Homo sapiens: one gene and its partner. The protein of the gene in region 2 purifies or fractionates together with the protein of the main gene of each other region. This does not show direct contact. Each region holds a gene or a part of one and is shown on either strand. Other genes may lie near its edges.

Region 1 (4,063 bases), on a different chromosome or scaffold from region 2:
AGTATTTCTCACACTGTCTGGTACACTGCAAGTGCAGATATCTGGTTATCCTTATCTTAAGGAGAGGCCAACTCTAACACTTATCGTTCAGGTTTGTATCTCTTTTGATATTTGACAATATGCCCTGAGTAATGCCAAATGGCTGACTTGGAGGAAAAAGTCTTATTCTCACTAGCACCTCTTTGGATCCCAAAATATTTAACGCATGTGTCTTCATCTAGCAAGCCAACGTTTCACAATAAGCTAGGCTTACATACATATTTAAAACTTTAACAACCTGCCAGAAAAGCCTTCCCAATTTGCTTCCCACACCAGGGATGGACAGTGAATTAAAAACTATGTTGCTAGGCGCAGTGGGTCATGCCTGTAATCCCAGCACTTTGGGAGGCTGAGATGGTGGTGGGGACAGGGAGGGGATCACTTGAGGCCAGGAGTTCGAGACCAGACTGGCCAATATAGTGAGACGCTGTCTCCAAAAAAAAAAAAAACACCAGGCCGGGCGCAGTGGCTCATGCCTGTAATCCCAACACTTTGGGAGGCCGAGGCAGGTGGATCACCTGAGGTCAGGAGTTCAAAAACAGCCTGGCCAACATGGCGAAATGCCGTCTCTACTAAAAATACAAACAATTAGCTGGGCATATTGGCAGACACCTGTAATCCCAGCTACTTGGAAGGCTGAGGCAGGAGAATCGCTTGAACCCAGGAGGCAGAGGTTGCAGTGAGCCAATGTCACGCCATTGCACTCCAGCCTGGGTGACAGAGCAAGACTGCCTCAAAACAAAAACACACAAAAAAGCCCAAAAAAAACCTACGCCTTTTTTCTCTCACCTGCTTGTCAATCTACCCAAGTGGAAAAACTGGCTAGTAACTATTTGCAAGGTTTATGAGTATCCCGTAGGCCAACTCAGCTGAAAGACCATTGCTACCCCACTCATTCATCAAATGTTTGCTGATCACTCAGTCAAGTGTCACTACACTCCCAGGCTGCAACTCTGGCCCAGTCAGGACTCACTAGCTCCAGAGGCAGATGCACATGTGTGCAATTAAAAGAGCAAACACCTGGGCCAGGAAGGCAGGTGCTAAGACAGACCACAGGCAAATAGGCCACAGCACCCCTGTTTTTCCCATTTTATTAGCAGGCCAATTGCAGAGTTGATGGGCCTTCTCTTTAGTTTCTCTCCTGCTTCTTCTTCCCCATACCCTCCATCCTGGGCATCTCAGGCCTTGCAGACAGTTCTCTCCTCCCTCTCCTCTAACCCACACTACACCCTCTGCAGGATAAACTTCCTTCCTCGTCTGACTGCCTCCGCCCCGGATATCCTCTCCAAGGCAAAGAGTCATTCACTGGAAGACCGTGAGCAGGAGGAGGCTGGATTTAGGAAACAATGGGTAAAAGCTGCCCTCCAGCAGCTGAGGGCTGAGGACAGTCTCTCTCAAAAGAGGTAGCCAGAAACCAGCTGGAGAGTCAGGAGGCAGCAGTTGAGTGAGAGCAGTTGAGGGGAGGCTCAGTACCCATCCCCAAATCCCACCTGGGGAAAATCCCCAACATGCAGTCTGAGAGGACAGAGGGAGACAACCAGCACCTCCAGCCTCCTTAGCTTCTGGGAGGAAGGCAAGGGATGAGGGGAGGACAAGAAAGACAGTAACTGAGAGATCACTCCTGTGTTGGAGGTTCTGTGTAATATGCTCCCCAAGTAGCATCCCTGAAAGAAACTGAGACATTGAGAAGTTAAATAGTTTGTCCAAGGAAACCTGCGCGTTAAGTGGCAAATCCAAGAGTCAAAACTCTGCCTTCCAAACAATCCCACCAAGACTCCAAGCCACCTCTTCATGATATACTGATATACTTTCTACCAGGGCCCAGTGGATTTCCTCGGTGCCACTGTGATAGTATCCCAGCGTGGGGAGAGCCTGCCCATTCATTCACTCTCAGGGAGCAGCTGGTGGGTGGCTGGAGCCCAGGGCTCTAGGCAGAGCCTGAGCCCACTATTGCTCCAGCCGATTCCTGGGTCCTGGTTAGTTCACAACAGCACCAGAACCAGAAGCATGCAAAATATTCTCTAGTCTGTACCAGTAGATACAATACCTGCCTCAGAGGGCTGATTGTTAGCTAACACATTGTGATTTGCTTTAAATGTGCTCAATACCAGCCCCTTTATCACTTCCCAGCTTTCAAGGACTGAGGCCACAAAACACTGACTGCAGGCTCTTTCAGGTTTCAGTAACCATCACCACCTAGCACCAAGATTTGGAGTGGAGAGGTTTCCATGCAGTTATTTCACAAGAGGGAAAACTCACACCTGCGCTCAGGGACACAGATGTCCAAGGTCAGGCCCAGATGTTTGCCCCACCCCGCCCGCGGGCATTTTCTCCCCAGCAGGAGGGTGAGGGAGGGGGTGGCACGGATGCCCTCATCTCTCTGCCATACAATGAGCGTCAGTGGCGCGCAGAATCGCCGATTGTTCTGCCCGACTTGCAGGCGGTTGCGGGGAGCCGGGTCGCCCTGGGTCACGCACACGCGGAAGTCAACTGTGTCCAGGAAGCCCAGGAAGGCCCGGGATGGGGACGGACCTAGTGCCTCCAGAAAAGAGCAGCACTGCCCGGGCTAACTGCGGTCACTTCTCACAGTTCCCCGCCTGCGACAGCCCCGGGGCTGCGGCGGGGCTGGCAAGACCGGGAGGCGCTGAGTGCGTGCCCAGGCGCCCCTCCGCGGCGGGCAGAGCCGCGCGACTCAGGGCGCACTCACCTGGCAGCTGGCTCGGCGGCGCAGGGGCGGCAGGCGCTCTCGGAAGTGGCGGCTGGGTGCGCCCGGCCTGCGCGCCGTTTTGTTCCGCTCCGCGGAAGGCGTGTCCCGGGCCACGCCAACCAGTGGGCTTTGCACACTGCACCACTCCAGGGCTGATGTCATGGCGCGAAGCCCGGCGGTGCTGCCCTCCTAGGCCCCGGGAAGGCCGGCCGGCAGGGGCGGGGGCAGGAGTCGCCGACTCTGGGGGTGCTCCGAGCTCGTGCTGCGGTCCCACTGTGCGCCCTGTCGCCGCCACCGCGGAAAACGTCTTGCACGTGCGAGGGGCATTTCAGGAGTTTCCTGTCTGTCAGGTGAGAAGGCGGAGATATGACCTTAGAGGTCAGACCCATGATAAACTTGAGCCCCTAACGAAAGGGTGTCTCGAATTTACTTGTCCTGGTGGCAGAGGGTGAGGGACACATTTTGGGCGCCAGGGTAAGACAGACCCTTCCAGGGCAGGTCTGATTCTGCCCATCCACTCACTAGCTGGGCCCTGGGCCTAGACAGCCCTTCTGGGTTCAGGGTCATCTGTGAACGGCGTGTAATCTACAGGGATGTGAGGGGCTAAAAGGAGATCCGGTAGGACCCGCAGACCTTCAGCAGCACCCGGCATGTAATAGACACTCAATAAATGTAACTCCCCCCTCCAACAGCTCTTGCCCCTCAGTTTTTCCCAGTCTTCCCTGCTACCCTAAGGACAACACCTGGAAAAAGGTGTTCTCCCGCAAAAGCAGCAGTTCTGAAAAGTGGGTGCCTCCATAGAGGCTTTTCTCTGGGGCTCCAACCTTCAGTAGGACAGACACAGGCTCAGGCCACTCAAGCTGCCCCTGGGGCAGTTTCCAGGGGACATTCTGTCCACACCTCCTCACCCAGTCCCCAGCCCTTCCTGAGTGCCCCGTGCAGGCATTTCAGGGAGCAGAGAAGCTCACAGCCTCCAGCTGGTCACCCTACACCCCAGGTGGCCCATAGATGCAGCTGCTATGTCTTCCACCCTGGGCAGGTGTCAAGGGTTCAGGCCCCAACCGGCTTCACTTAAAGCCCTGGTTTGCTGAATCAACTTTTTGCCAGGAATAAAGTTAAGCATCTTATGATCTAGAAAATGAAGTATTTGGCCAGGCACTGTGGCTCACGCCTGTAATCCCAACACTTTGGGAGGCCGAGGCAGGCAGATTGCTTAAACCCAGGAGTTCGAGACCTGGTGAAACCCTGTTTCTACAAAAAAATTAAAAAAATTAGCCAGGCGTGGTGGTGTGTGCCTGTAATCCAAGCTACTCGAGA
Region 2 (3,500 bases):
AGAACAAATGTGGATAACATTGGAGCACAATTGTCAATTGTGTAATTAATTCCATAAATTAAGCATAGCACAGAAATGCAGTCCAGTTCTACTTTCCATAATGTCATGAAACCTATCACTCCAAACTCCACGGACACAACTGTGAGAGTGATCCAGACGTTAATCAGTGAATCTGCCACCAGGAATGCCGAGAAGAAGAGCAGGAACAAAGCACTGATGCAGGAGTTGTGCAGGGGGGCTCCCAGAGAGGAGGCATATCGATCCATGTATACAAAGGACGGATTGAAGACGATGAACTTCACCTTGGAGGTGACAGAAAGTCTCCTCAGGGTTTCCAAGAGATCATAGAGTTCTTCTCTGTTTGTTTCCATGGTCTTGGCCACCAAAAACATTCTGGAGGCCACTACATCGACCTCATCATTGTATTTTTTAGAGAAGATGATGTCCTCTTGAAAATGTGAAAATTGAGGGGCTTTCAGAAAGGAATTCCTCAACATGTCTGTGAAATTTTTCTTAGGCAAGCCAGTGGATACATTGAGTTTCCGAAGGTAATTTAAATAGCTCTCAAACCAGGATATCCGCACAAACCCCTTGGTGTATTCTAGAACATCTTCTTGGACACTAGTGTTCCAGTATTCTATAGACTCATATATGTAAAACCCAATCACAGGACTGTAGTTGCTGAAGTACTTTTGCTGGGCAGTAGTGTACTCAATGGTTTGTGTCGCGGTTGCTACAATGTTACTAAGGTCTGACCCTTCACTGACCTGCAGATAGCCCATTAAGGCAAAGGAAATATAAATAAGGTAAAAGAGAACTACAAAAGGCTTGACATAGGTGTTGGTTATCCAGTCACAGTAATAGCGTTTGAGGAAACATACCAATAGGTGACTCTCGTAAGTGTTCGCTTCCTCGCCTTCAGCTGTGTCCTCACTGAATCTGGCCGTCAGGAGAAACCTGTACCATGCCGGCTTCTCCTGCAATGCCTCAGGCTTTGGGACTTTTCTACAGAAGATACTATGCTGGTAATTGTTTTCTATGTAGCCAGTGAACACTAGGCTGGAACCATAAAACGAGAGTACATAGAGGTAGTTGAAGAAGATTGCAATACAGGAATTGCAGCAGAAAATCCTGGCTGCCTCAATGTTCGTGAAAGGGCTGGCCCCTATGCCAAAGGTGACCAGGTACATGGCAGTGGTGAGAGAAAAGGAGAGCATGGAGTCTGCATAGACTGCTGCAGTTCTCTCTTTAACATGTTGGTCTTCTCTAGTTTTCCTCCAGGAGGATAACATTTCAAAAGTCCCATATAATCCATGACCTAAGAGGGCAGAAAAAGACCAGAGCAGAAGTTTAAAGAACTAATCTCTTAAGAGGGAAATCAACTTGATTATGAGGGACTACTGGGTCAAAGGAAACGTAATCAACCCTAGTGGTGACGGGTATGTAAATGCCAATGATTTCTCCTATGCGGAGATAGACCCATGTTTTTATGAATCGTAAATGTTAATGGATAACGAAAGGGCAGCTAGAGAAGCAAAGATCTTCATATTCCCTCTGGCTTAAGAAAGTTCTCTTCTTTGGAGTGTTCCACCAAACAAACAGCACTTAGATGAACTTTTGCCTATAGAAAGCTGAGTAGAGCCAGTCATGGTGGCTCATGCCTGTAATCCTAGCAACTTGGGAGACTGAGGAAGGAAGATGACTTAAGACCAGGAGTTTGATACCAGCCTGGGCAATGTAGCGAGACCTCATCTCTCAAAAAAAAAAAAAAAAAGAAAGAAAGAAAGAAAAAAGAAAGAAAAAAAAAGAAAGAAAATGAAACAACTTAGCCAGGAATAGTGGCTCATATCTGTAGTCCCAGCTACTTGGGAGGCTAAGGCAGGTGGATCTCTTGAGCCTCGGAGTTGGAGGCTGCAGTGAGCCATGATTGTGCCACTGCACTCCAGCCTGGGCAACAGGGCAAGACCCTGACTCTAAAAAGAATAAAAGCTGATTAGACTTGTGCATATGTCTCTTGGGGATTTTTCCCATTAATAGCTTAGAGTTATTGGTGCAGTTTGGTTGGTGGAACGCTCCAGAGAAGAGAAGATGTCTGGACACTCATCATTTTGCTTTCCGTCCCCACAAGTCTGGCTAGGGGTCAGTGCAGAGGAAGATAGTGGGCAGAGGGTTCTGAGTTAATGTCCTGTCACCTCATTTAAAATTTGCCAACTAGAGGGTTTTAGTGATAAAGAGGCAGTGTATTTCATTTGAGTCTTGACAGGAAACTAAATCACAGCCCCCTCTGTTTTCCCTCCCCAAATATCAGGGCAGGAAGCAATAAATCTTAGAAAGAGGGAAGCAAAATAAGTAGGAGTGAAGAAGTTTCAGTGAAGAAAATACAGAAAAAATAAGATAAATATGAACTCTCCTGGTTATTGATAAAAATTAGGATTCAGGTTGAAGGTTTATGACTTGCAATTTGTCTTCAGGGATCTGTTTGACCAATTTGGTTATTCATACATGACTTATCAAGCAGTGATATAATACGTCAGCAGCGACTCTGCTAGCTTCTCCGCGCTATTTGATAGTGGCATCTGTGGGAAAGAGCCAGATCAGTAACCCCGCTGCGTAACTGCTTAGTGCCTTCGCCTCCTGGTTTAGTATTTCAGCAATACTGAAATAGCAGAGGTACAGTAAATGCTCATGTTCTAAACTCCATTCTGCTGCCTGGAACCTGATCTAGCATGACTTCTACCACCTCTCGTAGTTGGAGCCAGACATTTCCCTACTTCGAGTCCCTGTGTTTCCAGGCCACTGCAACATTGGAAGGCTCACCAAAGTGACCCGTTGTGGATTTCGATAACTCCTGTCTTGGCAATGGGGATCAGCAGATCTAATTTCCTGCTTCCATCGCCTTGGCATATTCAATCCCATTATTGAGGATAATAAAATCTTTACCCTGTGGTACAATAGTCTTGTATTTAAAAAGGAATTTAAAATCTCCAGCCAAGCATAATGCTGAATAAAGTGAGTCACTGTTATCTTGTGTGTACAATAGCTAGGTGTACATCTTCCCTCATGCCCAAGCTAGTATTTATATCCTTATTGTGAAGTCCTGGCCTCATACCTGAAATGCCCATTTCAAAGTAATGATTTAGGCCTGTTTCCTCAGAGGAATTTGGCATTTATCTTAATTGACTAGGCATCGTTTTACAGCCACTTTTAGAAGTCAGGTCAAGACTGTCAATTTGTTAACTAGCACCGAGGCCCCTATTAAATTGAAGGCACCTAAACTCCCCAGATATGAAGTAAAAAGTACACTCATTGACTGGCATCCTGTTGTTAATTATGCTTAGGTATTAACATCTAGTCTGGAGAGGGAACATGATTAAATCTGTTTCTAGTATATTTTCAAGATGGACCCACTGACCTTTAATTAAGTAACCATTCTCTTGACAATGAGGGTAAAAAGAGAATACTTCTGAGGCACTGTCCCTGAAGAAATAATATTGTTTTTT

What was found. Proteins that work in one complex are often made in the same cells at the same time.
Region 1: the proteins of PTCHD1 (region 2) and CSRP1 purify together in Homo sapiens (co-immunoprecipitation; one study listed by IntAct). This does not show direct contact.

Annotation. Positions count from the first base shown.
Region 1 is NC_000001.11:201,504,324-201,508,386, forward strand, and holds the start of CSRP1 (cysteine and glycine-rich protein 1), read right to left. Parts: upstream 2,801-4,063; 5' UTR 2,747-2,800; intron 2,517-2,746; exon of another isoform or gene 2,301-2,516; intron 1-2,300. UniProt on the Homo sapiens protein: Could play a role in neuronal development.
Region 2 is NC_000023.11:23,390,349-23,393,848, reverse strand, and holds part of PTCHD1 (patched domain-containing protein 1), read right to left. Parts: intron 1,319-3,500; coding exon 1-1,318. UniProt on the Homo sapiens protein: Required for the development and function of the thalamic reticular nucleus (TRN), a part of the thalamus that is critical for thalamocortical transmission, generation of sleep rhythms, sensorimotor processing and attention. Can bind cholesterol in vitro.